4 linked regions of the Homo sapiens genome follow. The protein of the gene in region 1 interacts with the protein of each later gene in a pairwise test. Each region holds a gene or a part of one and is shown in the gene's direction. Other genes may lie near its edges.

The links.
Region 2: the proteins of HSF2BP (region 1) and HCK interact in binary tests that used the Homo sapiens proteins (3 or more experiments, as listed by UniProt).
Region 3: the proteins of HSF2BP (region 1) and GOLGA1 interact in binary tests that used the Homo sapiens proteins (3 or more experiments, as listed by UniProt).
Region 4: the proteins of HSF2BP (region 1) and CCSER1 interact in binary tests that used the Homo sapiens proteins (3 or more experiments, as listed by UniProt).

Annotation. Positions count from the first base shown.
Region 1 is NC_000021.9:43,529,726-43,538,032, reverse strand, and holds part of HSF2BP (heat shock factor 2-binding protein), read left to right. Parts: intron 1-8,070; coding exon 8,071-8,279; 3' UTR 8,280-8,307. UniProt on the Homo sapiens protein: Meiotic recombination factor component of recombination bridges involved in meiotic double-strand break repair.
Region 2 is NC_000020.11:32,054,643-32,062,949, forward strand, and holds part of HCK (tyrosine-protein kinase HCK), read left to right. Parts: intron 1-8,307. UniProt on the Homo sapiens protein: Non-receptor tyrosine-protein kinase found in hematopoietic cells that transmits signals from cell surface receptors and plays an important role in the regulation of innate immune responses, including neutrophil, monocyte, macrophage and mast cell functions, phagocytosis, cell survival and proliferation, cell adhesion and migration.
Region 3 is NC_000009.12:124,876,918-124,882,533, reverse strand, and holds the end of GOLGA1 (golgin subfamily A member 1), read left to right. Parts: coding exon 1-24; intron 25-579; coding exon 580-750; intron 751-1,276; coding exon 1,277-1,363; intron 1,364-1,923; coding exon 1,924-2,004; 3' UTR 2,005-4,259; downstream 4,260-5,616. UniProt on the Homo sapiens protein: Involved in vesicular trafficking at the Golgi apparatus level. Involved in endosome-to-Golgi trafficking. Mechanistically, captures transport vesicles arriving from endosomes via the protein TBC1D23.
Region 4 is NC_000004.12:91,592,481-91,600,787, forward strand, and holds part of CCSER1 (serine-rich coiled-coil domain-containing protein 1), read left to right. Parts: intron 1-6,091; coding exon 6,092-6,577; 3' UTR 6,578-8,307.

The DNA of each region.
Region 1 (8,307 bases):
GGCTGGGGTTGGAGAAATGGATTTAGAGTCACTGGTAGATACATGGGATTTGAAGTCATGGAGTAGACGAAGTCACCTAAGGAGAGTAGAAAGAGAAGGAAGCCTAGGACAGAGCCCTGGGCTAGCATCTAAAGGAGAAGTATAAGGAGGGACTGGTGAAGGAGTGCTATGGAAGCCAAGAAAAGCCAGAGGAGTCAAGTGAGACGAAAGCTGAGCAGTGACAACATGGAGGACATTGGTGACCTTGAGAGAAGCTGTCTCAGCAGTGAGCAGATGGTAGCGTGACTGAAGGGTGAAGGTGAGGTGGGGCGGTAGCAACAACAGACCACTCTTGTAATATTCCTGGGAAGGGAGTCAAGAACTGGGCAGAACTGGAGGCCAGTTTGGGGTCAAGGAAGATTTTTTTTTTTTTTTTGCCTTCTTGTTCTTTGAAGCTTGTAAGAATGGGCTTATGTTGCTGCTCGATGACTCCATGTTCCTAGGTGCTCAAGGAGCCTGGGGCATTGCCTAAGATGTGGCTGACATGGTCCAGAATCCATATGTGCTTTGGAGGTGGCCAGGAAGCCCATAGGAGGAGGGAATGCTCAGTGTGTGCCCTGAGAGCTTTGCCACTGTCAGAAAGCACCTGACAGGAACAAGTTTGATTGTATTTGACACATGCCGGCACTACCACAGAAAGTTTTAGCAACAGATAAGAGGGGACATCTGTACTCTCAACTTCTTTTTTCATACTTCCTATTGAAGTTTTCATCTCTACTCTCAGGCATTTAATTTCTAAGACTGCTGTTTATTTTTAATTGTCTTAAAAAATAGCATCCCATTCTTGTTTAACAGATGATATAGCTTCTTTTACCTCCTTGAGGAAGATATTAATAATAGTTTTTTAAAACTTTTCTTCTCACTGCACAATCTCTTTTCTTTGTCCTCCTTTTGTTCCTGTTTAAAATGATAGCCATTTATCTTTTTCTCAGGTGTCTGGTGATGTGTGGTTGTCTGGTCATGTTTAACAGTGGGATTTATAATGCCGATTGGAAGCTGTGAGCATATGGGTGGAGCTTCTGAACTTTTCTGCAGTGTGAGCTGGTGCATCAATTAATTGGGAACCCATAGGTCAGTATCTTCGACTGTGTTGTCTTGGGTTGTTCAGATTGTCTGGAGAAGACTCACCCACCCTTATTTCTGGAGGGATGAAGGCCTATAAACTCCGGAAACAAAGTAGAGATAGAGGGAATGTCTTAGAGCTTGTAGGTATGTGTTTATCTAATCCACATGTTTTCCAGACAGAACCTCCATCCTCAATTGTGCCTGATGTTTCACCTCCAGAGATTCTTTAGAAAATAAATGTCCAGGCCAGGTGGGGTGGTTCACACCTCTAATCCCAGCACTTTGGGAGGCTGAGGTGGGCGGATCACCTGAGGTCAGGAGTTCGAAACCAGACTGGCCAACATGATGAAACCCCGTCTCTACTAAAAATATAAAAATTAGCTGGGTGTGGTGGCAGGTGCCTGTGATCCCAGCTACTCAGGATGCTGAGGCAGGACAATCACTTGAACTGGGAGGCGGAGGTTGCGGTGAGCTGAGATTACGTCACTACACTCCAGCCTGGGTGACAGAGTGAGACTCTGTCTCACAAAAAAAAAGAAAAGAAAAGAAATGTCCAGTCTCTACTAGGGAAGGGCATTTTTCCAGAGGCAGGGAATAGGGGAGAGGGTCCAGGGATCTAATTTCTTATTATTATTTTTATTTTTTTTTAGTTTTGAGATGCAGTCTTAACTCTGTCGCCCAGGTTGGAGTGCAATGGCGTGATTTCAGCTCACTGCAACCTCTGCCTCTGGGGTTCAAGTGATTCTCCTGCCTCAGCCTCCCAGGTAGCTGGGATTACAGGTGCCTGCCATGACACCTGGCTAATTTTTGTATTTTTAGTAGAGACAGGGTTTCACCATGTTTTTCAGGCTGGTCTCGAACTCCTGACCTTAGGTGATCCACCTACCTTGGCCTCACAAAGTGCTGGGATTACAGGCGTGAGCCACCAAGCCTGGCCTTCTTCTTATTTTTAATATAAAGCCAGATTTGTTGAGTTATAATTTACATAGAACAAAATTCACTTGTTAGTAGACAATTGTATGAGTTGTGACATAAAACTATCTCAGCATATAACTCATATGCTGAGTTATGTGGTAAGTATGTGTTTAAATGTATAGGAAATTGCCAAATTGTTGTCTCAGGTGGTTGTACCATTTTATTTATTTTATTTTATTTTATTTTATTTTATTTTATTATTTTATTTTATTTTATTTTATTTTATTTTATTTTATTTTATTTTATTATTTTATTTTATTTTATTTTATTTTATTTATTTTATTTATTTTTGAGACAGAGTCTCGCTCTATTGCCCAGGCTGGAGTGCAGTGGCACGATCTCGGCTCACTGCAACCTCCACCTCGTGGGTTCAAGTGATTCTCCTGCCTCAGCCTCCCAAGTAGCTAGGATTACAGGCGTGCACCACCACACCCAGCTAATTTTTGTATTTTTAGTAGAGATGGGGTTTCACCATGGAGGCCAGGCTGGTCTCAAGTTCCTGACCTCAGGTGATCTGCCTGCCTCAGCCTCCCAAAGTGTTGGGATTACAGGCGTAAGCCACTGCGCCTGGCCTGGCAGTACCATTTTAAATTTTCACCACTAATCTATGAACATTCCAGTTGTTCCTCATTCTTGTCAACACTTGGTATTTTCAGATTTTTATTTTTTAATTTTAGCCATTCTAATAGGTATGGATTTAATTTCCATTTTTCTAATAGCCATGATGCTGAGCATCTTTTTGTGTGCTTGCCATTTGTGTATCTCCTTTGGTGAAGTGTCTTTTCAAACACTTTCCCTATTTTTATTGGGCTGTTGTGTTACTGAGTTTTCAGAGATGTATGTGTATTCTGGATTTAGGTCCTTTATCAGATACGTGTTTTGCAAATGTTTTGTCCTCATCTAGTGGCTTGTCTTTTCATTGTGACTGTCTTTTGAAGAGCAGATTTTTAAAATTTTGGTGTGGCTAATAAATTATTTAGTTGTATGGATTATGCTTTTGGTTTTGTGTCTAGGAAATTGTTACCTAATTCAAGGTCACAAAGATTTTTCTCCTGTTTTCTTCCAGAAGTTTTAAAATTTGGGGTTTTACATTTAGGTATGTTATTAATTTTTGTATAATTTTTGTATGTTAGGCAAGGTATAGATTGAAGTTCTTTGTTTTTGCATATGGATGTTCAATTTTTCCAGCACCATTTGTTGTAAAGGTTATTCTTTCTTGATTGAATTGAATGTATACCTTTGTTGAGAGTTCACAAAGCTGTGGTCTGTTTTTGGATCCTCTAATTTTATTTCACTTATCTCTTTGTCTGTCGCTCTGTCACTTGACCAGTACCACACTCTTTATGGCCATAAATGTTGAAATCTAGTACTGCAATTCCCCAACATTTCTCTTTCTCTAAATTGTTTTGTCTGGTCTAGTTCCTTTGTTTTTCCAAATAAATTTGAGAATTACTTGTTGATTTCTGCTAAAATTTCAACTTGGATTTTGGTTGGCATTGCATTGATTATATAGATGAATTTGAGGAGATTTGACATTTTAACAATATTGAGTCTTCTAGTCCATAAATATGGCATATTCTCTCCATCTATATGTCTGTGGATCCTTATATCTGTGTTTTGTTGTTTTCAGCATAGAAATCTTGCACATAGTTTCATGAGATTTATACTTAAGTGTTTCATGTTTTGGTGCTATTATATAATATATGGTAATTTTTAAAAAACATTAGATTTTTAATTTTTTGTTATAAGTATGTGGATACAATTGACCTTTGTATGTTGAATTTGTATTCTGTGACTTTGCTAAACTCAATTAGTTCTAATAACTTTTTTTCTAGTTTCTTTGGGATTTTCTGTATAGACAATCATATCATCTGCAAATAGAGACAGTTTCATTTCTGCCTTTCTAATCAATAAACCTTTTATTTCTTTTTCTTGCCTTACTGCACAGGCTAGGATCTCTAGTATGATTTTGAATAGGGGTGATAGGATATTCTTGCCTTGTACGTCATCTTAGGAAAGAAGCATTCAGTCTTCTATCATTAAGTATGATGTTAGCTGTGTGTTTTTTGTAGATGCCCCTAATCTGGTTCAGGATGTTCCTTTTTATTCCTGTTTTGTTGAGGGTTTATTATTATTATTACTGTTATGAACAGATGTTGAATTTTGTCAAAAGGCTTTTCTGCATTTATTGAAGAGATAATTTTTTTTTTCTTCTTTAGTCTGTTGTTACGGTAGGTGATGTTGACTGATTTGCAAATAATGAGCCAGCCTTCCATTCCTAGAATAAGTGTCTATTGGCTGTGAAGTATTATCCTTTTTATATATTGCTGAATGCAATTTGCTATTTTTTTGTTTAGGATTTTCGTGTCTTTGTTTATGAGGGATATTGGTCTGTTCTTTTATTTTAACATCTTTATCTAGTTTTGGTGTCAGTGTAATTCTGGCCTCATAAAAAAAAGTTGACTTATTTCCTCCTTTTCTGTTTTCTGGAAGACTTGTTTAAAATTTCTATTATTTCTGTTCTAATTTTTTGATAGAATTTGACAATGAAGCTCTCTGAAATGTTATACATTGCATGACTGTTTACCTTTAAATAATAATCCGCTGCTTCAGGTATAGTGTAAGTACCTTAAAACAGTGTTTTCCCATCTATTGATCATATTTATTTCAGATTCTTTTTCTGAAATTCCTGTATTATTATTCCAGGTTATCTGTGTGTCTGCTTCTGTTGATTGTCACTTGACAATGAGCCTTTTGTTTCCTTTGCCTTCTTTTGTTTGTTTGTTTGTTTGTTTGTTTGTTTGTTTTTGAGACAGAGTCTCACTTTGTTGCCCAGGCTGGAGTGCAGTGGCGCAATCTCAGCTCACTGCAACCTCTGCTTCCTGGGTTCAAGGGATTCTCCTGCCTCAGCCTCCTGAGTACCTGGGATTACAGGCGTGCGCCACCACACCCAGCTAATTGTTATATTTTTAGTAGAGATGGGGTTTCACTATGTTGGCCAGGCTGTTCTCAAACTCCTGACCTCGTGATCCGCCCGCCTTGGCCTCCCAAAGTGCTGGGATTACAGGTGTGAGCCACTGCGCCTGGCCTCCATTGCCTCTTCATTGTAATTTTTGATTTCAGTGTTGGACATTGTGTGGAGGGCAGTAGGCAAGGTCAAAAAACTTTTTCTGTAATGGGCCAAATAAATATTTTGAGTTTTGAGAGCCACGTGTAGTCCCTGTTGCATGTTATTCTTCTGGTTTTTACTTTTAAAAAATTACCCTTAAAAAATGTAAAACCTGGCAGGCTGCAATGGTTCATGCCTCTAATTCTGGCCCTTTGGGAGACTGAGGTGGAAGGATTGCTTGAGCCCAGGGGTTTGATACCAGCCTGGGCAGTGTGGTGAGACACCGTCTCTACAAAAAAATGTGAAAAATTAACTGGGCGTGGCCACATGTTCTGTGGTCCCTCTTTCTTGGGAGGCCGAGGTGGGAGGATGGCTTGAGCCCAGGAGATTGAGACTGCAGTGAGCCATGATTGTACCAGAGTACTCCAGCCTGGGAGACAGAGCAAGACCCTGTCTCCAAAAGGAGGAGGAGGAGGGGGGGGGGAGGAGGAGGTGGTGGAGGAGGAGAGGAGGGGGGGGGAGGAGGAGGAGGAGGAGGAGGAAAGAAGAAGAAGAAGAAGAAAAAAAAAGTAAAACCATTCTTAGCTTGCAGGCTGTACAGAAACGGGTCATGGGCTACCTTTGGCCTCTGGGCCATGCGTACCCTCTCTGTAGAGGGGAATGAGGTGGGTAGATAGTGTTATATTCAGGAATGGCCACTCCTCTTTTTCCGCTGGGTTTTCATTGTTGGGGAGTTAAGGTGGGTCTGGGTTTTGTTGTTGTGTATGTACCTTCCATCCCACTGGCTTCAAATTCCTCTAACCTTTCCTTGAGCTTAGGATGAGGGCTGAGTTGCCAAAGCGTCTTCACCCATGGCTTTTGGCCTTGCCTCTGTGTCTGCCTTAGCTGCCCCTTATCTTTGGCAGGTCTCTACTAGAGAAAGTTCCCCTCCCTTCCCCCAAAGTAGGAGGACTCTAACAGGCTGGCTTAAGATGGCTCCTGGACCCTCCCTGAGGGCTAGAGCAGATTGCCTTTTATCTTCCCTGGCCACAGCAGTCTTCTGATTCTGTAGGTGAGAAGCTTCTTGTTAGGGCTTAGTGCTGTGGCAGCTCCCACTGAGAGACTGTTCAGTCTGCTCTTTCAGTCTACATCTTAAAAGGTTTTTTTTTAATTTTTTTATTTGTTAAGTAAATGTGCTAAGAAAGAGGTGCTGATTTTGAGCCTGGTTCCAGTTGCAGTACCCAGTCAAGGAGTGAATTTACGGCATCGTAAAGGCTGCCAGTAGAGAGGAATGGTAAGGAAAGTTGGCTCCACTCTGGTGATGGATTGAAGCTTCCAGTGGGTTTGTCTAGCTATTTTTTAGTGGTTGCTACAATGTATGCAAGGCTACCAGATTCTATAAGTCCTGGGGCCATTCCCATGGAAAATAAACAACGTGAATTTTATATACCCAGTGACATTGTGTAAACTCAGTGGCCCTGATAAGTGCTGTATCTGTATGTGGTCCCTGAGGGATTTGCTGCAATTGGAGTGAAAAAGAAGTAATACTTTTTAAAACAATCTTATAAGTGGACAGAATGCTACTGTCGACAAAGAGTCAAACTCTGCAAAATATTTGAAGAGATTTGTTCTGAGCCAAATATGAGTGAGGTCCTGAGAACATGTGCCCAAGGTAGTTGGGTGCGGCTTGGCTTTATACATTTTAGAGAGGTGTGAGACATCAATCAAAAACATTTAAGAAATACATTGGTTTGGTCCAGAAAAGTGGGACAAAGCTGGGGGGCGTGGGGCTTCCAGGCTATAGGTGAATTTAAACATTTTCTGATTGATAAAGACCTGGGATTGATAGAAAGGGAATGTTCAGGTTAAGGTAAAGATTGTGGACATCCAAGTTCTTTTGAAGTCTTATGGTGGCTGCCTTAGAGACAATAGATGACAGATGTTTCCTATTCAGATCTTAGTTAATCTCTTTAGGATTAGGAGGGTCTCGAAGAAAAAGATCTAGCTATGTTAGTAGAGATTCTTTACAAATGCAGATTTTCCCCCACAAAGAACAGCTTTGCAGGGCCATTTCAAAATATGGCAAAGAAACATATTTTGGGGTAAAGTATTTTTATTTTCTTTCTTGTCTCATAATGTTATGCCAGAGTCAGGTTGGAAAGTCATGATATATAGGGTTAAATAAAACCCATCTGATGAGAATTTGTGATTTGTAGGACATGACTCCCCAGACCCCTTAGATAGGAATTTGGGCAAGATAAAAAAAATCAGAGTTTAGTCCTCACTAGCAAACAGAGAAAGCCCTCATCTTTCTAGTTTAACACTTTAAAATTGTATGACTGTAATATTTGAAGATGATGGTTATTAGACTATTGAGTTTTTTGATGCTGCTTTTATGAGCTAAGCTTTTATATCAAGCAGTGACTGTGTTTCTGGGTTATCCTGTAGTTTTCTAAACTGTCAAACGTGTTATTCAGAAAGGCCAGGAACCCCTTGAGGGGTAGATTGCAGTAGAACATTTTATTCTAGGCCAGGCGCGGTGGCTCACGCCTGTAATCCCAGCACTTTGGGAGGCCAAGGTGGGTGGATCACTTGAGGTTAGGAGTTCGAGACCAACCTGACCAATATGATGAAACTCCATCTCTACTAAAAATACAAAAAATTAGCGAGGCATGGTGGCACACACCTGTTATCTCAGTTACTTGGGAAACTCCTGCCTCAGTTACAGAGGAAAGCTGAGGCAGGAGAGTCTCTTGAGCCTGGGAGGCGGAGGTTGCAGTGAGCAGAGATCATGCCACCGCACTCCAGCCTGGGTGACAGAGCGAGACTCTGTCTCAAAAAAATAAAACAAAAAGAAAAAAGAAAATTTTATTCTAACCAGAAGCATTACCTCTTTTCCCTAGATCCAGATGCAGAGGTGTGCCTTCATGTACTGAGGCTTGTCCAGTCTGTGGTTCTGGAACCTGAAGTCTTCTCCAAGTCGGCCTCTGAGTTCCGGAGCTCCCTGCCCCTGCAACGCATCCTGGCAATGTCCAAGAGCCGCAACCCCCGCCTGCAAACCGCAGCCCAGGAGCTCCTGGAAGATCTCCGCACTCTGGAGCATAATGTGTAGGTGTGCTCGGCCACCAGGGTTTTGGTGA
Region 2 (8,307 bases), on another chromosome or scaffold:
AAAAATACAAAAAATTAGCCGGGCATGGTGGCGGGCGCCTGTAGTCCCAGCTACTGGGGAGGCTGAGGCAGGAGAATGGCGTGAACCCTGGAGGTGGAGCTTGCAGTGAGCCGAGATCGTGCCACTGCACTCTAGCCTGGGCCACAGAGCGAGACTCCGTCTCAAAACAAAACAAAACAAAAAACTATCTAATTGTGAGACTTTTCTGCAATTCTGACAATGGGGATAGCAGAGGAGCATATTTGCCCCATCTTATCATTAAGTTGTCAAAATCTACCCAGGATGAGAAATAGAAAATAGAGGCCTCATTCATTCCTTCCAGCTGCTGTGGAGTATCCCAGCAGGTAACGACTCTACAGTATTTCTCTTTCCCCTGTGGATAAATACTCAAGTTGTTCCTAGGCGTTCACTACAACGAACAATATTGACAGGAGCATCCTGGATGTGTAGCTTTCGGCCCATGTACAGGTGGTTCTTGAGGAAAACACCAAAAGGCTGGATGGCTCCCCAGAGAGGGCACCTGTCACACTCCCCTTTGTGTGAGAGGAGTACTGTAGCCCAGAAGGGTCACCAGGGACTCTGGGGCAGAGAAGAGAGAAGAATGTTGCTCTGCTGATCTCCCAGCCGTCTCTGGATCAATGGCCTTTCTTTCAGGCCTCATGTTCTCTGCTGTAAGGCACTTCACTTGCCTTACTCACTATGCCTGGCACTTAATAAGTGTTCAAGAAAATGGAAGCATGAACCTTTTGAGGGAACAATAACCAATATTTTCATGTATCTTTATGTAGTCTTTTCTATGCACTTTTAAATTAACATAATTAGTATAATGCTACACATAGATTATTTTTATCCTATTTATTTGCTTAGTATTACATTGTAGCATTTTCCAGGTCATTAAAATGTTCTTAAATTTTTAGTGGCTGCATAATATTCCACTGTTTGCCTGTATTATAATTTGCTTAACCTTTCTAGCAGAGCAATCTTTTATATAGTTCAAAATTTTTAGAAATATTTTAATCGAGGTGAAATTCACATAACTTTATAAAATTAACTATATGATTTTTAAAGCGAACAATTCAGTGGTATTTGGTATATTCACAATGTTGTACAAACACTACCTGTCAGTAGCTCCTAAACATTTCCATCACCCCTGAAAAAGGAAACTTTGTACCCATTAAGCAATTACCCCCCATTCCCCCGGCCCCTGGCAACCACCAATCTGCTTTTTGCCTCTACGGACTAATTTATTCAGGATATTTAACATAAATAGAAGCATACTATGTGACTTTCTGTGTCTAGCTTCTTCCACTTAACATAATGTTTTCCAAGGTTCATCCACATGGTGGCAACTATTAGTACTTTATTCCCTTTGTGGCCAAATAATATTCCATTGTATGGATATTCCACAGTTTATTTACCCATTTATCCACAGATGGAAATTCAGGTTGTTTCCACATTTTGACCATTGAAAATAATACTGCTATGAGCATGCATGTGCATACATGTATTTGTTTGAGCACCTGTTTTCAATTCCTTTGGGTATATACCTGAAGTAGAGTTACTGGGTCATATAAAAGTTCTATCTCTGTGGCCGGGTGCGGTGGCTCACGCCTGTAATCCCAGCACTCTGGGAGGCTGAGGCGGGCGGATCACGAGGTCAGGAGATGGAGATCATCCCGGTTAACACGGTGAAACCTCGTCTCTACTAAAAAAATACAAAAAAATTAGCCGGGCATTGTGGTGGGCGCCTGTAGTCCCAGCTACTCGGGAGGCTGAGGCAGGAGAATGGCATGAACCCGGGAGGCGGAGCTTGCAGTGAGCCGAGATCGAGCCACTGCACTCTAGCCTGGGCGACAGAGCGAGACTCCTTCTCAGAAAAAAAAAAAACAGTAGTTCTATCTTTAACTTTTTGAGGAACTGCTATGCTGTTTTCCACCATTTTACATTCCCACCGTAATATACAAGGGTTTCAATTGGCTTCACATCCTTGCCAATGCCTACTATGTTTATATTTTATTAGTATTATTATTACCATTCTAATGGGTACAGAAAGCACGAATCTTAATCTCATTCAAACCAGGCTGCCCTCTGAGGGCTCTTACCTCAGAAAGTAAGGAGAAAGTTGTCTACATTCTAAGGACTAGCCAGGGCTTGGACTTTAAACTCTTCTAGAAAGTAAATTCTACAAGAGCACAAACATGTTTGTCCTATAAACCACTGTATCTTCTAACACCTGGCACCTGGCACATAGTAGGGCCTCAAAAAAACACTGATGGGACAAACGCAATGAATGTTGGACAACCTCCTCCCTCCCTTGCCTGAGATATTTCAGCTGCCCTCCCCGAACACCCCTCCACCCGCAGCGATTATTTTTAATTAGTTGCTAACATTTAAACTCAGGAGAGCTCACATAATCTGGATTTCTGTCTCCTAAAACATTAGAAGAGTTAGCAGCCCTGAGACTAGAACCCACGACTCCAGTGCTCTTCAGACAACCTCAGTGGAGCTGGGGGCTGCCCTGGGGGCTACACCTGGGCTGTCCAGCTTGCACAGCCCTTGCCAGGCCCACTTTCCTCATCCGCAGAACCCTCCACATCCCTATAGTCATTTGAGTTTTCAAACCCCACCCTTCGGGTCATGACAAGGCTTCCTTTTTTATAGAAAAGGAACATGAAGGGCTGGGTGCGGTGGCTCACCCTGTAATCCCAGCACTTTGGGAGGCCGAGACAGGCAGATCATCTGAGCTCAGGAGTTCGAGACCAGCCTGGGTAACATGGCAAAACCCTGTCTCTACAAAAAGTACAAAAATTAGCTGGGTGTGGTGGCACATGGCTGTAGTACCAGCTACTCAGGAGGCTGAGGTGGGAGGATCGTCTGAGCACAGAAGGTGAAGGTTGCAGTGATCTGAGACTGCACCACTGTACTCCAGCCTGGGTGACAGAGCAAGACCCTGTCTCATAAAAAGAAAAGAAAAGGAATGTGAAGCCTAGAGAGGGTAATTGACTTTCCCAAAGTCACACAGCAAGTTAGTAGCACAATCTCTCTCAGCCTCTTTCTTTCTTACATCTTTTTGTTGTTGTTTATTTTTCTTTTTTTATACCACAAGTCATCAAGCAATCACTTCTGCCTTTCTAAACAAACCCCACCACATGCACCAACCACATGTTGGTCCCCACCCCATTTCTCCAGTTTCCTCCCCCACAGGACTGGGAGTTTGAAGGTACTTTCAGAGGCGTGGGTAATGATGCAGAAGCAGCCTGTGCTTAAGTGTAAATGTGCCCTGGTCTTGGCCCCGGCTGTGGTCCCACATGCTGCATCCTCTGGATGGCACTGCGCTAGGACGTGCGCTCCTGACTCTCCCTTCGAGTCACCTCCCTGAGTTCCAGGCATCACCCTGAAATCCTTTGGCCCAGGAGATGTAAGTGCAGCCAAGAGAACAGGAATCCCAGCCTCATCTCTACCATAGAAATGAAGAACAGTGGGTACAGTACAGTAGACGACCCCGAGTCTGAGTGCCAGCTCTGCCAAAGACAGGTTGTGATGCACTAGGCAAATCTCTTCCCTTTCTGAGCCTCAGTTCCCAAATCCAAAAAAAAAATGGAACTGAGGCTGGGCACGGTGGCTCACACCTGTAATCCCAGCACTTTGGGAGGACAAAGCAGGTGGATCACCTGAGGTCAGGAGTTCAAGACCAGCCTGGCCAACATGGTGAAACCCCGTCTCTACTAAAAATGCAAAAATTAGCCGGGCGTGGTGGCGGGCGCCTGTAATTTCAGCTACTTGGGAAGCCGAGGCAGGAGAATTGCTGGAACCCGGGAGGCACGGTTGCAGTGAGCCAAGGTCTTGCCACTGCACTCCAGCCTGGGCTGACAACAGCAAGACTCTGTCAAAAAAAAAAAAAAGGGGGAGAACTGAGGAGGATACTACTCATGATTCCTGCAGCACAATTCCTTTTATGTCAAAACACACACACACACACACACACACACACACACACATACACACACTAGTCCATCATGGCGTATATGTCTTAGTTTGAGTTTCTCCAGAAGCAGACCCTAGGCAAGGTTTCAAATGCAAATAGTTTGAGAGCTGATTCCAGAGACCCTCCTAGGGGAGTAAGGAAGTGAGGCAGGGAACAGGAGGTAGTCATTAAAGGTGTCTTCTAAGCCCAGTTACCACTGCGGGCACCTGGAGCTCAATCCCACTGAGGAGCTCTGGGAGCCAGGGTAGAACAGGCTTGAGAGGTGAGGGAACCGGGGTATTTGTCCACCCTGTTCTCGCTCCTGTCTTTTGTTGAAAACTACTCCTGGGGATGTGATAATTCTCTAGCACTTTCGGCTTGCCAAGCCCATGGGCAGAGCAGGCACCAATAGCCACAGAGAAATCTCTCAGACAAAGAGATGAAGGTGCCGGCAGCTGGAAGTCCAGCCAGAATGTGCAGAAATGGTAAAGGGCAGAGTGATAGAGGCAGGGCACTGACAGCCTCTGCTTCAACATACATGTGTGTAAATGCAGAGGCAGAGGCTGAGGCCAAATGCTGGCAGAGGATATCTGGGTGGGGAAAGAGGTGGCCATGGAGGGCTTATAGAATGAGTAATCCAAGAGTGTCTTAAATGTATCTGTAATGTTTTAATCTTCCTTCCTTCCTTCCCTCCCTCCCTCCTTTCTTTTCTTTTCTTTCTTCTTTCCCTTCTTTCCTTCCCCCCTTCTCCTCCTCCTCTTCCTCCTCCTCCACTTTCTTCTTCTCTTCCTTCCTTTCTTCTTTCTCTCTCTCTCTTTCTTTCTTTTTTCTTTCTTTCTTTCTTTCTTCTTTCCCTTCCTCCTCCTCCTCCTTCTTCTTCTTTCTTGCTTCTCTCTCTCTCTCTCTTTTTTTTTTCTTTTTCTTTTTGAGACAGGGTCTCGCTCTGTCTCCCAGGCTGGAGTGCAGTGATGCTATCATGGCTCATGCAGCCCCAACCTCCTGCGCTCAAGCGATCCTCCCACCTCAGCCTCCTGAGTAGCTGGGATCACAGGCACATGCCACCACACCCAGCTAATAAAAAAAAATTCTGGTAGAAATGGGGTCTTGCCATGTTGCCCAGGCTGGTCTTAAATTCCTCGGCTCAAACGATCCTCCTGTCTTGACCTCTCAAAGTGCTGGTATTACAGATGTGAGCCACCATACCTGGCCTCTAATGGTTTAATTTTTAACAAGAAGGATGCACTAATGTTTTACTAGGTGGTAAAAGGTCATTTTAAAAATAAAATACATACCCTTCAAAAAATAAAAGAAACTGAGACCTGGAGCTTTGTCAATTATAAAAAAAATGTAAAAGGATCAGCGCCTGTGTTACTGAGGCTTTGAGGATTCCATTTGTGGAGGACAGGTTTGGGGGCAGCTGATCTCTCAGTACCACGGCAGGTTAAAGTGAAAAGTGGCCCTGGTGGTGAACTGGCCACCATGTCCTGTCTGGAGGGGGAAACTTCCACTCAGCGGCAGCCAAGGAAAGACTGCTCCTCTCCCAGCAGAAGCGAGCAAATGTGCATCACCCTTCTCAGTTTAAACATATATTTATAGCTATTGGTTTTCTTTTTGTTTGTTTGTTTTTGTTTTGAGACAGGATCTCACTCTGTTGCCCAGGCTGGAGTGCAGTGGGGCAATCTTGGCTCACTGCAACCTCTGCCTCTTGAGTTCAAGCAATTCTCCTGCCTTAGCCTCCCAAGTAGCTGGGATTACAGGCACCCACTACCACGCCCAGCTAATTTTTGTATTTTTGGTTGAGACAGGGTTTCACCATGTTGGCCAGGCTTGTCTCAAACTCCTGACATCAGGTGATCCGCCTGCTGACCTCAGGTGATCCGCCTGCCTCAGCTTCCCAAAGTGCTGGGATTGCAGGCATGAGCCATTGCACCTGGCCTATTTATAGCTATTGTTTAGACGGGAAATCTGGGGGCATCCAGCAGACTAAATGGGGACCTTACTGTCATATCTCATATCCTATTGGTCAGATGGATAATAAACAAATCAACAGGTAATACATTAGGTGCATTAGTCCAGGTCCTTTTTTATTTTTTCTTTTCTTTTTCATACTTAACTTCAGCATACCCTGAGATAGTTCAAGTCCTTTGAGAAGCAGACTCCCATAGCATTAAATGTGCAAGAAATTTATTGGAGGAAATGGCTATGAGAGAAAATGGGAAGAAACCAGGAGAGGACAGGAGAGCCATCAGATAGTGGGGTACCTCTGTCCACTAATGAAAAAGAAAAGGAAGGAAGAAAGGAAGGAAGAAGAAAGGAATAAAAGGAGGACGTGTCTTGGACTGCCATGCCGTATTTTTTTTTTGTAGTTGTTGTTCTGTTTTATTTTGTTTTTTTTGAGACAGAGTCTTGCTCTGTTGCCCAGGCTGGAGTGCAGTGGCGCAGTCTTGGCTCACTGCAACCTCCGCCTCCCGGGTTCAAGCAATTCTCCTTCCTCAGCCTCCTGAGTAGCTAGGATTACAAGCATGCGCCACCACGCCCAGCTAATTTTTGTATTTTTAGTAGAGACGGGGTTTCACCATGTTGGCCAGGCTGGTCTTGAACTCCTGACCTTGTGATTCGCCCGCCTTGGCCTCCCAAAGTGCTGGGATTACAGGCGTGAGCCACTGCGCCCAGCTGCCGTGCCATTCTAAGGAAAGTTTGTCAAGGCTGTTAAGGAGCCCTTGGCCAAAGTCTCTTGACAGAGGTCCCCCAGACATGGGTGGGCTTCGGTCTCCCTGCCACACTCAGTCATTGGCTGGGAGCAGCCCATGAGAGCAGTGATGGACTTCAGAGCACAGCAGCTGAGCCGCTGATCAATTTCTCCAGTCGTACTCCTGCAGTTGGAGATCTGAGAGGTGCATCCTCATGGCCACCACGTTTAAGAGGTGGTTAGGGGCATGAAGACTAGCTGGGAACAGGCTAGACAGTGATGGGAGTTGGGGGGCAGAGGATCCTGTCTTTGCCAGGGTGATGAGGGAAGGTTGCTCTGAGAAGGTACAATCATTAGAGAGACTGAAGGAAGTGATGGAGCCTTTCTGGGTGAAGAATATTCCAGAAACAGAACATGCAATGCCCCAGAGGTATAAGCACAGTTGGTGAGTTGAAGAAGAGCAAGGAGGGCTCCAGTGGAATGATCAAGGGAGAGTTAGAAGGAGACAGATCTGAGAGGCTGAGGAGGGGATCAGATTGTGGAGGTCTTACCCACCTTGGAGAGGACTTGGGCTTTTACTCCAAGTGAGACGGAAACCCTGGGTGGGGGTTGAGCAGAGAAGGAATGCGATCTGACTTACCTTTTTTTTTTTTTTTTTTTTTGAGACGGACTCTCACTCTGTTGCCCAGGCTGGACTGCAGTGGTGCGACCTCGGCTCCCTGCAACCTCTGACTCTGGGGTTCAAGCGATTCTCCTGCCTCAGCCTCCTAAGTAGCTGGGATTACAGGCATGCGCCACCATGCCCGCCTAATTTTTGTATTTTTAGTAGAGATGGGGTTTCACCATGTTGGTCAGGCTGGTCTCCAACTCCTGACCTCAGGTGATCTGCCCGCTTCAGCCTCCCAAAGTGCTGGGATTACAGGTGTGAGCCACCATGCCCAGGATGACTTACATTTTTAAAGGCTCACTTATTTGTAAGAGGCAGAATGCAGATTCAAACCCAGCTCTATCTGACTTCAAATCTCATGCTCTATTTTCAAACTGCCCTGCCTCCTGCCTGCCTTAGAGATAAAATCATTCCAAGAAGGTTCACAGTTGCTCTGGAATTCTGAAATTGACCAAGTGTCCCAAGAGTAACATTGAACATGCTATGAGTTTTATATGTGGTTGAATAAGTGTTTGGAACACAGGCATCTCAGAGCCAGCCCTATGGCTCAGCCAGGCAAATGATCAAAGCCCTGAGTTCTCCTTTAGTGTGTTGCTCTGTCGCTCGCCATCGTGTGAGCCAGGGCCCACGCAGCCTCTTGGGGTTGTTACTCCACCTGTCCAATGAAGATTTTGATCTCCCAAGTTTCCTCCTGTTTGCAAAATCAAAGTTTTGAGCTCTATGAGAAAGAAGCTGAGGCTCAGTAAAGGGAAGACGTGAGAAGTCAGGAGTGACCCCTAACTGTCTATTAGGGACAGTAGTCACTCGGGGATAAAGACAGTTCATTCAGAAGACAGTCAGGGAACCCGAGGAGAGGGAGCTGCTGGGCTCTGCACCCCCAAGGCACTGCTCAGGGAATTGGCTCCTGTTGAGGAAATACTTTTTCCCCACCCCCATTGCTGAGCTGTTCTGAGAAGGGAAAGTTCCTGTAACTGAACAGCCTTAAGC
Region 3 (5,616 bases), on another chromosome or scaffold:
CGGAAGACTCTGCAGAAGGAGCTGGTGAGTACTCGCATGGGAGCTGGCCCCACTTCCCAGCACTCCCCCTGCTGCCTGTGCCCGGTCCTCCTGAGGTCCCTCGCCGCCTGACTATGCTCCCTCCACCCCCTAATTAATTGCAAGGGATCGCTGGGCAATCCAACGTTAGCTGGTGGGACAGCCTGCCAGCCTGCATGCACCTCTGAAGCAGCTCCGTGGCTACAGCCCTGTTCCTGCCTTCTCTGAGCCTGCATCCTCATCTGGAAGTGGGGTTGCCTGCCACGCCAGCGCAGTGATGCTCTAACAGTGTGTGTGTGTGGCAGAGTGCTTGGCCTGATGCGGGATGCGAGCAGCTTCAGGCCCCAGGGACATGTGTTCTTGCCATGGAAAACGGAATGTCTGAATTTACCCAAACGATGTCACTCCCTCCTCAAGCCTACCTGGAGGTGCTTCCTTCCCAGGTGGGGCCCTTTTTGCCCTACGATAGTGATCATAGTTTGGACCAGGTGAACCTCCCGTGTGATTTTTTCCACCTGTCTCAGAGGGTTCGGTGTAGCATCTTTCCCACTGGTTTTTCAGAAAATCAGACCCGATAATGAGCTCTTCGAAGTCCGGGAGAAACCTGGACCTGAGATGGCAAACATGGCGCCTTCCGTCACGAATAACACTGACCTGACAGATGCCCGCGAGATCAACTTTGAGTACCTTAAACATGTGGTTTTAAAATTCATGTCTTGTCGCGAATCCGAGGTAAAGGGCTTTTGAGGTGTCTTTTGGGTATTGAGGCCCCGCCCTACAGTCTGTCCTGCAGGGACCCCTGCCCAGCCCCTTTCTCTCTTTTCCTCGTACATCCTGGTTTGACGCCCTTGTGGTCACCCAGTCATTTCTCCTGCTGGCGTTGGCCTGCGGAGTGAGCGGCTGGCGGGAGAGGCCGTGCAGGAACTGGCTCCTGGTGGGAGACATAGGCTCCACTTCTAAATCCTGGCCTGGGTGCTGAGGCCAGAGGCCGGAAGCCGGGAACGGAATCCACCCATCGCTCCTGGGTCCTGCCAAAGGGTAGGGTAGCTGCTGGGGCAGTTCCCTTAAGCCTGCCAGGCCCCCGAGGATGCAGGGGAAGAAAGAACCTATCATTGCTGCCAAACTTCAGAGTGCCAGAGCGTCACCCACCACCTGGTCCTGCTAACCAAAGCAAGCAGGAAATGCCACGTAGCTCCCCCGACCCCACCCCGCCTCACCTTCACCAAGGCCTATGGCAGCAAAACTTACTGTGTTTCAGGCTTTTCATCTTATAAAAGCTGTGTCAGTGTTGCTGAACTTTTCCCAAGAGGAGGAGAACATGCTCAAGGAAACTCTGGAATATAAGGTAGGGTTCTCTGGTCTACTGTTCCAGCTTCCAAGATACGTTGTCAGTTATCCCAGCAGTAGCAGTGTAAGACCCCTTAGACCCACACCCGAGTGTAGGCACCAGCACAGCTGCATGATCAGCTTGGCTGCTTTTGGATGAACTTGATCCAAGCACTTTTTAGCGATGACATCCTTTGTGCCCAAATGTCTGTGCTGTACTTGACCAACAGGCCACGTATTTTTCAAAGCATTTTCATTGATAGCGCTTTATCGAGAGCCCCAGGTCTGGCTCGGCACTCAAATTCCAAAAGCGTCTGCATAAATGCTCTAATAGGAAAAAATACCTGCAGTTCCACTACCTTGTTCCTGTCAACTCAGTGTTTTTCTCTCATTTCCCTCCTGTACTGAGCACGGGCCTGCAGACTGGTTACTGGCACCATCTTCTTGCTCTGCTCAGAGCCAGAGGCAGGATGTGTGGGGGGCAGGAGTGACAGGCTCACGGGAGGGGAGGGGCGGTTCAGTTTCCCTGGCACCAAGTCCTGATTTGCATCTCAGAAGCCTTTTCTGTTTCAAATGCAGATGTCATGGTTTGGGTCCAAACCAGCTCCCAAGGGCAGCATCCGGCCGTCTATCTCAAACCCTCGGATACCATGGTCCTAGAGGGGACTACCCAAGGATGGAGCTCCGTGGGTTGACACTTTTTCTGTGAAAAGAACACTGACACACCAGTCTGGGTGGGTTTTTAATCACTGTAACTGCAGTATTTTGTACAAGTGTCTAAACATTGTTTACAAGACTAAGGCCCACTTCCCTGCAGGCTGACCTGAACCTCAGGGGGTAGCTGATCCTGTCATTCTGGTCACCAAACAGGAGGGTCCTGGCACTACCCAGATTTCCACAGTGCTGCTAATATCCCAGCTCCAGCCAGCACCCCATCTGCACCTGAATCCTCTAACTTCACGGTAGCACTTACAGCTGAAGCCATCAGCATCTGGCAGGCACACCTGAGTCACCATGTAGCGCTGCTACTGGAGGTAGAGACGGCCCTTTGAGATGGTGCCCAGCAGGCCAAACCCACCTGCCTCTGCCAGGAACAGCCAACTCCATGGGAACTCTATGGGAGTGGCTTTTAAAAATTCAGATGAGTTAGAAGCTTTTTATCCCTTCCTCTCAAGAAAATATTCTTTCACCCTGTCTCTCAAACCACCTAGAACTTTAGAGGATCCATCTTTAAGGGTCGGTGTGGATGAATGAGAAAATGCACCTTTCTGACAGTATCTCCACTTTACTTAAGAAAACTAGCAAATATATGAAAAGACCCTTAGTACCAAATACACTCAATTGCCTTTTTAATGAATGTACTTGTCTTGGATAGGTTGCTGGTAAACCATTTTAAACTATTTTTTATAGCTGAAGTTCTTCACTACTATAAACATGTCTTCTGTACTATAAAATCCATTTAACTGGTGTTCTTAAAATCAGAGCGTCCAGAGGAAATTCTTCCTAAAACTAGGATTCCTGTTCCTTTGTCTTCTCACTCGCACTCTGGCACTGCTCCCTCTGAAGTGCAGTGGGATCTCGTGTGCTTTGTCTTGATTCTGTGCTGCGCTGCCGCTGGGCGATGCAGACCACCTGTCTTCTACTGAAGGACAGTCCGCTGTCTCCAGTGGGGGCAGCAGCTGTCCCCCAGCCTCGATGGAGACACTGGGGCAGTCTGCCTTGTCTGTGGAGCTGCTCTCTCTCCCTCATCCCACCCCAAATACTTAAAATGACACTACACCCAGACGGCGCCCAGCTGGCTGCAGCACTTGTAGCATGCACATGACTCTGGTAGTAACCAACAAAAACTTGTTTTATGGATTCCTCGTTTACTGAGGAAAGGGAACATGCTGGTTCTGGAAAAGCCACAATATTGAATCTAAAAGGAAACCGTTTATTGTTTGATGAAAGTTTCACTGGTTAAATAAAAAACTAAATTAATAACTGGAGCCTCTAAATTTATTATCCATTATCCAGTGATGGAAAGTTGTATTTCTCAATCATGCTTAGGGCCAAAATAGGTATATAAAATGTGTCACAGAAAAACACGCATTTGCAACGTTAACCTAACGAAATTTCCATGAAGAACCAAGTCAGGGCAGCATCTCCTTAGTCCCAGCTCAGGCTCTCTGCCTTCCAGAGGCCGCTTCTCCAGTGACTAACCTCCTCCTCTGGCTCCTCCTTGCAGACAGTTATCCCTTGTTTAGAACACGAATTTCCATTTACCTGGTGGGAACACGAAACAGGAGTCTCTTCTGTTCTGCAAGTTTGATGGGTAAGAGGTAGCCTTTTTTCAAAGTAGGATTTCCTTTTTCAACTGTTCCAGGAAAGAATCTCTAAGACTGGGTAGCTCACAGCCAGCCAAAGGCAGCTACATTTCCACAGAAGCCCATCCGCTGCCTCCGTGGCTTCTCCAGCCATTGAACTGGTCCCACACGCACCCCAGGCCCCACTCCTCGGCAGTTTCAGGTGTAGCTGTGGGGCCCGTTCCTAGGTCTGTACTCACTTTAGGGAGGCTTCACTGACTAGGCTTTCCTCCTGCATGTTGAATTTCCTTCAGCTTTAAGAGGAAGAGTGGAATAAATATTCTAAGTGATTTAATGCACTTTGACTTGTATAAAACTTTCTGTGTTAGCGACGGTATCTATAGCCCTTTATACGAGCGATGGATCTTGAGCTCTCCTTCCATGTTGTAAATAGGGATTGTATTCTTGAAAACTGCTGTAGCAAATTCATCTGTGGTGCAATACACTTTTTGATTAAAGCTCTTCAATCCAGATGCAACTACAATGGATTTTACTAGTTTGGTGTGTCAGTATTTCTTTGACTCATTAAATCTGGTATTTTGTGTCTCATATTTAACACTCCAAGGCCAACCTCAAGGGCTAGAGAATGTTTGTCTTTCTTTCAGAAAGAACCTTCCCAGACTGGATTTGGGTGAATAAATATACGTAATTTAATGAAGCCAACAGCCCCATTCTACCCCCCCCAAGAATTGCAGTGGTTCTGAAGAGGGACTGAGGAGGGGAGAGCTGTGGAGGGGAGGACTGTGTCACTTTGGTCAAAGTCTGTATCCAAAGGCTGTATGACCCAGAGGAGCTTCTGGAGTGTGAATGGGGCCCTAACCTTTAACAGAATGCAAGCTGCAGTCACATGTGCTGAAAAGGAAAGAAAAGCATTTTTGCCCTTCAGAGAAGCTCTGTTATTGGTTATGGGGAACCAAATTATACCATCTATTTGCTGATTGATTGCTCCCCATTTCTGACGTTTAGTTCTTTAAAGAAAGCTTGTCCATGCAGCAGTGATTCTGCAGCACAGCCAACCCAGCATCAGGAGACGTGACCAGGCACATCTGAGGCCCCACCCTCAAAAGATTCCAAGTGCAATCCCACAAACTGAAGACTTTTAAAGCCTAGATCAATTATTAAATGTTTGGCACTTTATTAAATTAATTAAATAAGCTCCAAAATTAATTACATACAAATCAAAGGAATAAGAAACAATAAATAGTTTATTCAGCAAACACCTCTCTGCAGCAGCCGGCAGCTCTGAGGCCGAGGCTGGCGTCCTGTGGCAGAGGGCCTGTGGATTGCCATGCTCGCTCCCAGGGGTGGCTCAACAGGGACACAGGTCTACTCCTTCCACATCGGGTTTCCGGAACAACAACTGAACTCTCATTCATTACCATCCCATTCATTACCATTTTTTTTTACATACACGAAACACACCGCAATGTATAGACTAATAAGCCAAGAGCTTTATTGATGCAGCAGGCACTTTACAATGAGCCCAAGAGTGTCCACCTTCTCTGGGAAGACAGGATGTCTGTACAAACTCTTGGGTTTTTTTCCACTTCAAAAACACAAGCTCTCCCGTTTACCACAGCCCTTGGATCTGCACCTGCCCAAACCATCCCTCCCCCAGTGCACACAGGTGCATCTGACCAACACCAGCCGCCACGCTGGTAGACCGTCAAAATGTCAGTTCTGCAGTACTCGGAGACAAAGGCATAGACTATCAGATCCTAAACAGGATTTAGGAAACAGACGATTTTCCCCTCCACCTTGAAAATAAAATACATTTCAGCAGATACATGTCCTGAAATAGTTTACTTGGGAGTTCCTAGGAAGATGGTCCATTGTCAATCCCTTCTTCACCAGCCTGGGCATCCAGAATTCTTCTCAAGGTAACATGAGTCTTTTTATTTTTTTTAAACAGTCTTTCTTGCTGTAA
Region 4 (8,307 bases), on another chromosome or scaffold:
GTGTATCTTAACCTGCAGGTCTCATTAATAGGAAACCATGAACTTATTCAGAAGACACATTTCTCAGTGTGAATTATCCATACAAAAGTTACTACTTAGCTTCTACTACAAGAACTGTAACCAAGAATAATTCTGATTCACTTTAACATAATTTAATATTTATCTACTCTTTCAATTGAATTCACATTATAATGTTGATATTTTCATTAATCTTTCAAATATTTTTAAATTCTGTTTAACATTAGTTATTTTTCTAAGTATAATACCAGTTTTCCTAGATGGCTATTGGGGGATTGTTTCAAGTTTCTCTATTCCTTTAAGAACAATTCTTGTTGTAAAGCAATATTTTTTTTTTGTTAAGTGGAGAACATTTGCAGGAAAAATATATTTTAAAGTCAATGAAAATAATCATGTGCAGAGTTCTTATGTATGCAAGCAATTATAACAGAATAATTTTGCCTGATAACATTCATGGCAACTACCAATAATTTTTACAAAACAAGGAAAAGAACTTCAGAAAAAATAAAACATTATTAAACGTTCATTAATCAGTGATTGAAGTATTTCTCCCCTCCCCCATAAATTCTATCATCACATCATCCAGCCTTAACAAATTTTGGCTTTGCACATTGGCATGATTATTGTATTTCTGTTTTTCACCAAGAGACAAGTTTTTAATATAATAGAATCCCTAAATATCAGGTTTCATTTTACAATCAATGCTTTTAACCAGGTTGCAGTTGTAATGCAGTTTAAATTGCCCGTGCAATGTGTATTGTATCATAGCTTCATATTTGCCTTTCTTTAATTGAGTTATATGCAATGTTGGTGCTACATTTGTTACTAAAGAATGTTTTCTAACAGCTTACTGTACTTGATGTTATAAGAAAAATAATTTTGTATACAGAAAGCCAAGGAAAAAAACAGGGTATAATTTTAATATTAATGAAATAAATATTTTTAACTGTCTTGTTTTCAACCCCGTGCTTTTTTTTTTTTTTTTTTTTTTTTTTAGTACAGACAGGGTTTCACCATGTTGGCCAGGATGGTCTTGATCTCTTGACCTCGTGATCCGCCCACCTCGGCCTCCCAAAGTGCTGGGATTACAGGCGTGAGCCACAGCGCCCAGCCCCCATGCTTTTTTCTTAAGTAAAAACCCAATGCTTTATAAAATCTAGAGAGGGAATATACCTATGTGTGGATGACACTGAATCATTGAGAAAAATGCAAAAGGACTGTCTGTCAAATGCCAAACAAGGCAACTGAACACAAAATAAATTGCAATGAGAGGCTGGTGTGACTTACTAATGGATCACACAGGCTGAAATAAGTGAATGTGGTTTATTTGTTTTAAATCAGCATCAGGTGTTTTGTTTTTCATTTCTTAGTGGTGTATTAAATAATAATATGTTTTAAAATTAGTATTTTCTTGCATTTGATGAAATACAGGCTATATGCTATTGTAAAGAAATGAGAGGAAGACAATTAAAAGGTAACAATGAACTTATTATAATGTGCACAGTCGACTGATTAATCACTAGATTTTCCATCCTTTCATCCTCATTAGGAATTCTATGGATAGGTAATAAGCTAGCTGCATGACAACTAAATTGCGCAGAATCTGACATAATTACATGAGTTTCAGGAGGCTTAATTCTGATTTTGAGAAAGATGTGGCTAGACACATGCATTAAAATTACCTTCAGGGATCTCAAATTCTTCAGAGGTAATAAACATTGGTTAACATCATAATATGGAAATTATTTTCCTCTGGGCCAAGGCAACCAAATCCATATATATATATATGTGTGTATATATGTATATGTATATGTGTATATATACATATATGTACACACATATATATACATATATATACACATATATATACACATATATATACACACATATATACATATATACACATATATACACATATATATACATATATACATATACACACATATATACATATATATACACACATATATACATATATATACATATATATATACCCAAATCAGATCTATCTATATCTATCTATCTTAGATTCCCATCCTTCCGATCCAAATGCATATGCCAAAATGTATTTTAATATTTTGTGTTAAGAGGATGTTTCCTATGTACTTCTAAACATATTCCAAAACATGTAGCATAAAATAAACCTAGAATTTTAGAATTGGAAAGCAACTGAATGATTGTTAGAGTTTCTTCAAGATCTAAATTCTATTGTCTTACATTTTATTCATTTCATTCAGTGAGTGGACTTAGAAACTGAAGCCCAGAATAATTAATTTATTCATTCCATGTTACACAGTTCAATGGTAGCACAACTAGAGTCTTTTGGCTTCAGGTTCAGTGTTCTTTCTATTAGCTCAAATTGTCCTATAATATACTAAAGACACAATAGGGTAATTAGTGTAGTGTATGGTATGATATGCCTCCTACTTTTCCCTTTCTCTGCCTCAAACAAATACACTTTCAAGACTGAAGTCTTAATTTTTCCTGTTGCTGAGAGTGTTGGCAACTGATAGCTCTCAAGTAAATTTCTCTCCAATAATTTCTCTGCTTAAAAAAAAAAAGCAAAACCAAAAAAACCTACTCATCCAATACTATAGCCCTTCCCAGGGCCTGCCAATGTCCAATAACTGGATGATGGGATATAAGACTCCCACCGACTTGCCTGAATTGGAGACCACTATTAAGAACCATCCCAAATTCAGACCTCCCTATGTGATCAGTCGAGATAGTGTAATTGCACAGAATTTAATTTCTCACTCTGCCTGACTCTGCTTTCTTCATTCTCTATAGTTGTTGGCCTAAGAACACTCCCCAATACATTTCACAAACATCTGTCTCACAGTCTGTGTTCTGTGGAACCAAACTACAACAATAAATATAAAATTACTTGAATTTTCTAGAGAAAGTGACTTTCTTTTTAAAATAGAGATAAAAGTGTTCCAAGTGATTAGGTTCTAAAAGATGAAATAAATACCTCTCAAAGTAGTTTCAAGGTCTGTTAGTTACATTATATTGTTACTGTGATGATGATGATTATTGTTGTGATTAAGGTAACTACATTCCAGGTAATTAGGCATTTTATAATCAAGGAGGTCATTAAATATTTGTAATAATCCTTTATGAAGATATGGATATAAATATAAAACTTCATTTCTCAGATGAGGAAATTGGCAGCTTAGGAAGCTTAGGTAACTTGCCATGTTCACTAAACTAGAAAGTGTCTGACTTGAAGCTGACTTAAGGTAGCATTTGGGTCTTATATGAACAGCCCTATTTCACATGATGTATGCAGCACCTTGTCCTCAGTGTGGCCAATAAATATTTATCACAAGAATAAATGAATTCATATATATCTGACCCTACCCATATGATTAACCCCTGCACAATGCAATCTCCTATGTCCACTATGAGCTTTGGAGATAATAGTAAATATCACAGAGAACTTAAAAAAAAAAAAAAAAAAAAAAAACCAAGGGCAAAAAAACTAACATGTCAAAAACAAACTATGCTAAATAAACATAAATGGTTGATTTAAATGTGTATTTTCCTTTAAAAATTGAGAGTAAGAAGCCCCATCTTGCTTCTTTTGATAGTAGATCCACATGTGCCTTCTAAGTACCAGATACTGTACCAGAGAAGGGGTGCTGAGGCTGCCTGTGTGACTGAATTATTTGATCCTTTTCAATATGTCTTTTTAAAACTGTATATTCAATTTAATATAATATGCCAGGAGAATTAAAATGATCACATAAAGAAAACAATGAATATTCCCTCAAAGGTAATATTAAAATAGTGGAAATGAAGTCTACTCCTACCATTTCTACTTTCCTAGGCAGCATCTGTTGAAATAGAAATGAAAAAGAAATGTAACCACTGGTGTTATCATTATGGACTTATTAATGTTGCATTCATCCCCAATTTTTTCCACAATATTTCATAAGCAGCACCCATGATATGTCTAACATTTGGCCACAGATATTGAGCACAAGGTTGATTTGGGGGTTGGTTGGTAACAATTAAATAAACATATAAGTTTACAGGGATGGAGGAAAAAGAAAAGATCACATTTCTAATAGGTCCATAGCCTAGAGTATTGGGAAAGAGCCAAGAAGAAGAAAGTGAGCTAGACAAGTTCCCAAATGACGAAAATGGAATCAAAATAGTTTATTCCTTTTACTCCTAAAAAGTCTGAGGCATCTCTTGTGAGTCTTACAATGTTTCCTTTCTACACCAAATTACCAACCTACCTATGTCTACTCCAAATCTAAGGAAAAGTTAAAACAGCATATTAGAATTCACAGAGGGGGGTCTGCTGTAAGTAGCTTATCACAAAAATATAAATAAGTAAAGATGACATCACAAACATCAAGACAATAAAAAGGAAAGATGACATCACAGACATCAAGACAATAAAAAGGAAAGGCCTGAGTAGCAAAATCCTTCCCTCTGAAATCACTGAGTTTAAGGACGCCTAGTGGGTCTTTGTTTTGTAGAAAAGAAAAGGAGGGAGACTTATTTCAATAATAATCATTTTGAGGCATCAGCTCATATTACAATGTTTTTCTGCACGTAATTAATTTTAGAAAAATGTGATGAAGTTTTGAAAAATTCCTATGGAAATACTCGAGGAAGAAGGAACTGGTAGATAATCAAGCAGACGGCCTGTCCTACACTAGCTTAGGATAAAATCAAACTCTGTGCTACAATTTTCCAGTCTGTATAACGGGAATAAAAGAAACTACCTCAAAAGACTCTTGTGAAGAGTGAATATATGAGAGCAATAGCAGAGTGTTGGAAATACACACCCAATAAATATTATGTATTATCTCAAACTTTATTCAGCAAATATTTATTAAATGGTTAATATGTGCCAGGCAATTGTGTCAGGAAGAAAGAGTAGAAATGAAGAGAAATGGATGACTTGAGATTATATTTTGTAAATAGCAAGGACCTGATTTTAAGGTGTATGAAGAAAAGAGAAAAGAATAATTTTCAGGTGTTGGCCTGAATGTGGTGCCATTTACTGAGAAGGGAAATTCTTGGGGAAGAATGAGTTTCACAGTTGAGAATCAAGTTTTATTTTGTTTGGTTTGATATTATGCCAAATTAGTAATATTAATATAAGTAATATTAATCAAACAAAAAGTGATGATGGCTAAATAAGCAAATGAGCCTGCAGCTATCTATAGTGCTCTTCTCTCTTCTCCCTTGTCTGTTTCTCTTCATTTTTATCCTCTTTCTTTGTAGCAACAATAAATCCTTCATTTTTTGCATGCAGAACAATTAAGCCAGCCAGTCTCAGTTTTTACCTCAATGTGTTTTTCTACACAAACATAGTGCTCTCTTCAGGAGGAATATGGGTGCTAGCTTGTAATCTTTGCTTCTTCACAGCATGATTCAATGAGCTATGCCTTGTTATTACTAGAGTATACAATTCTTATGAGCAAGAAGATGGTATGTACTTGTGGACCTGATTTTGATTAATAAATTGCATCCAAAAGTCTAAATGAAACATGTATTGAAATTTCTAATAAGTGGTCTATTGGTCTTCTTAGATTCTTGTAGTTACTTGTGTGTTTTTAGTTCCTTTAATTTCTTGCTTACCACTTTGGTGATACAAATCATGATACTGATAATTCTATAAACTCTCTGGACATATATTTAAGTAACTATAGCATATTAAGCCAACAAAAGCTAATGGCCTCATATGTCTATATTCATCACTTATTAAAATAATCTGTATTTTCATACTCTGGTATCGCTTCAAATCATATAAATCACCTTTTACTTAATAAAATAATCTGTATTTTCTGTGAAGCTATATAATTCAAATTTAGTAAATTAGATGAACAAATATAAAAATGCCTTTTAGAGTAAATTAACCATTTAATCACTATCTGTAATAGTATTGCACCGGAAAATTTAATCCCATGGTTAATTGTATTGATAATTTTATAAACCTCATTGAAAATTTACGGGTTCAGACACAAATGTATAAATATCACTCTGTATTGTATGTATGCTATGAAAGTGTTTTTTTAAGACATCTTTTTCTTTCTGTGTCTTACCATAGGCTACATATCGAAATCGAATTGTGAGCCAAAATCTCAGCACAAGGGACAGAAAAGCAATACATACTCCCACCGAGGACCGTTTTAGGTATTCGGCAGCGGACCAGACAAGCCCCTACAAAAACAAGACCTGTCAACTCCCAAGTCTCTGTTTAAGTAATTTCCTGAAGGACAAGGAACTAGCAGAAGTTATCAAACATTCAAGAGGAACTTATGAAACCCTCACTTCAGACGTTACACAGAACTTACGGGCCACCGTTGGGCAGAGCTCTCTGAAGCCAACAGCTAAGACAGAAGGGCTCTCCACGTTCTTAGAGAAACCAAAGGACCAAGTTGCTACGGCCCGACAGCATTCGACCTTTACAGGCAGGTTTGGACAGCCACCCAGAGGGCCAATCTCTTTACACATGTACAGCAGGAAGAATGTGTTTCTCCACCACAATTTACACAGCACTGAGCTGCAAACTCTAGGCCAGCAGGATGGGTAATTAAATCACCGTATTCCTGTCTTTGGGTAGGATAAAGATGGTTAGTGTTTCTCGTGCATAGTTCATATTAAAATTGTCATGTACTTTTTCTTACATTTTAGTTATAAACAGAGTTGTGTTGTTGGGTTTTTTTTCTTAGTCATAAACAAAGACTTGTGGGTTTTTTTTTTCCAAGAGTGAAAGTTTGAGCATGTTAATTGAACTAGGTTGCATTGCCTTGAAGACTTTACTATATAGGTGTATAATAAATGGGACCATCATGATCGTTTATATAGTCCATAATTTATTTATTTTTTATCTCTATCACTTACTGATATGCATTAAGGTTTCAGAAGATAATATCAAATAGCAATCTGTTCACTGTTAATGGTGTTACTATAAAAGTAGACCTGATGAAAAATAGATAAAGGAATTATAAAGAATTTTAAATTATATAATTAATAGAAGGAGGAAAAAAGAGAAATGTTAACGTCTTATATTTGGTGGTATATTTATTTGAAGAATGTGGCTTGCTTGCATGTAACCTAGAGATGTGTTTGTCTCTATTACATACATTCAAGCTCATCTTGTGATACTAGTAAGGGGGAAATGGCTGTATTTTTTTTCCTTTAAACGTTTAGTTCATACTAGTTCACAAAGGATTTCAGACAGAGTAATTGCTAGCCAAATAGAGAATGACAGCTCTGATCTTTGAAAAATTTTGCTTTTAGTTTTTGTTATTGATGTTGAAGTACCGTGACATAACACAAGGTGATAAAGTTGGTTGAATTTTGTCAGATGATGCATAAATACTGACATGCTATATTCTTTGAGCCACTGTCATGGCAATATAAACATTTTTTCAAAATTTCAAGGATGAAACATCCTAAGAAAATTATTCTTTTTCTTTACTTTCCTTATTTTTTAAAATGTTCTTTTTTATGTAAATCCAATTTTGGTTTATATACATCAACCCATATCTATAATTTTATGAACTGAAGAACAGAAAGTCAGTATTTTAGTAGCCAGCATACAATATTCTGACTATGCAGAAATCTAGATTTGGAACAAAAGTAAAGTAAATGTGAACATTGGCAATTTAATCTTAGAAATAAGCTTCTAACAGGAATATTTAAAACCCATTTGATGGCAAATATTTCTCTTTGACAAATAAGGCCCAAATATGTTATAATATGTTATATACTTATGTGCACTTTAGATCAATATATGAATTGATCTATGGATAATTCCATCATGTTCAATTAGTAGCAGAGCAGAATCAAAGAGTACAATTGAATACATAAATAAATAATTTTTAAAAGACTAATAGGAATCAAGGCTGCAGTTTTCTTATACACATCAGAGCTGTTAAGTACATCCACATTAGCCATAGTCCATGCAAATTGAAACTGTCATACCTACTGCATGATCTGTTTCCCTTGCATTTTCTAACAGAATCTGTCAGCGTGCACAAGCAAGATGAACAAAGGGAAATTGAGATAGCAGTTTTAGCATGGCATCTGACAACTTGCTTAAATTAAAGCTGTGTGCAAAATGCATCTCCTATTATAAAAATGTATTTGTGCCCTGTGCTTTGGGGAAAAGCCATTAGACACTCCACCCCTGAGCTTTAACTACTGAACTTTGATACATTTGCAAACTTAGATTGGAACTGATAAAGTAAGGAGTCGAGTGGATATGTTGTACTTGTAATTTTGGTTTTCCAAAGGAACACACATGTGCATCAAGGC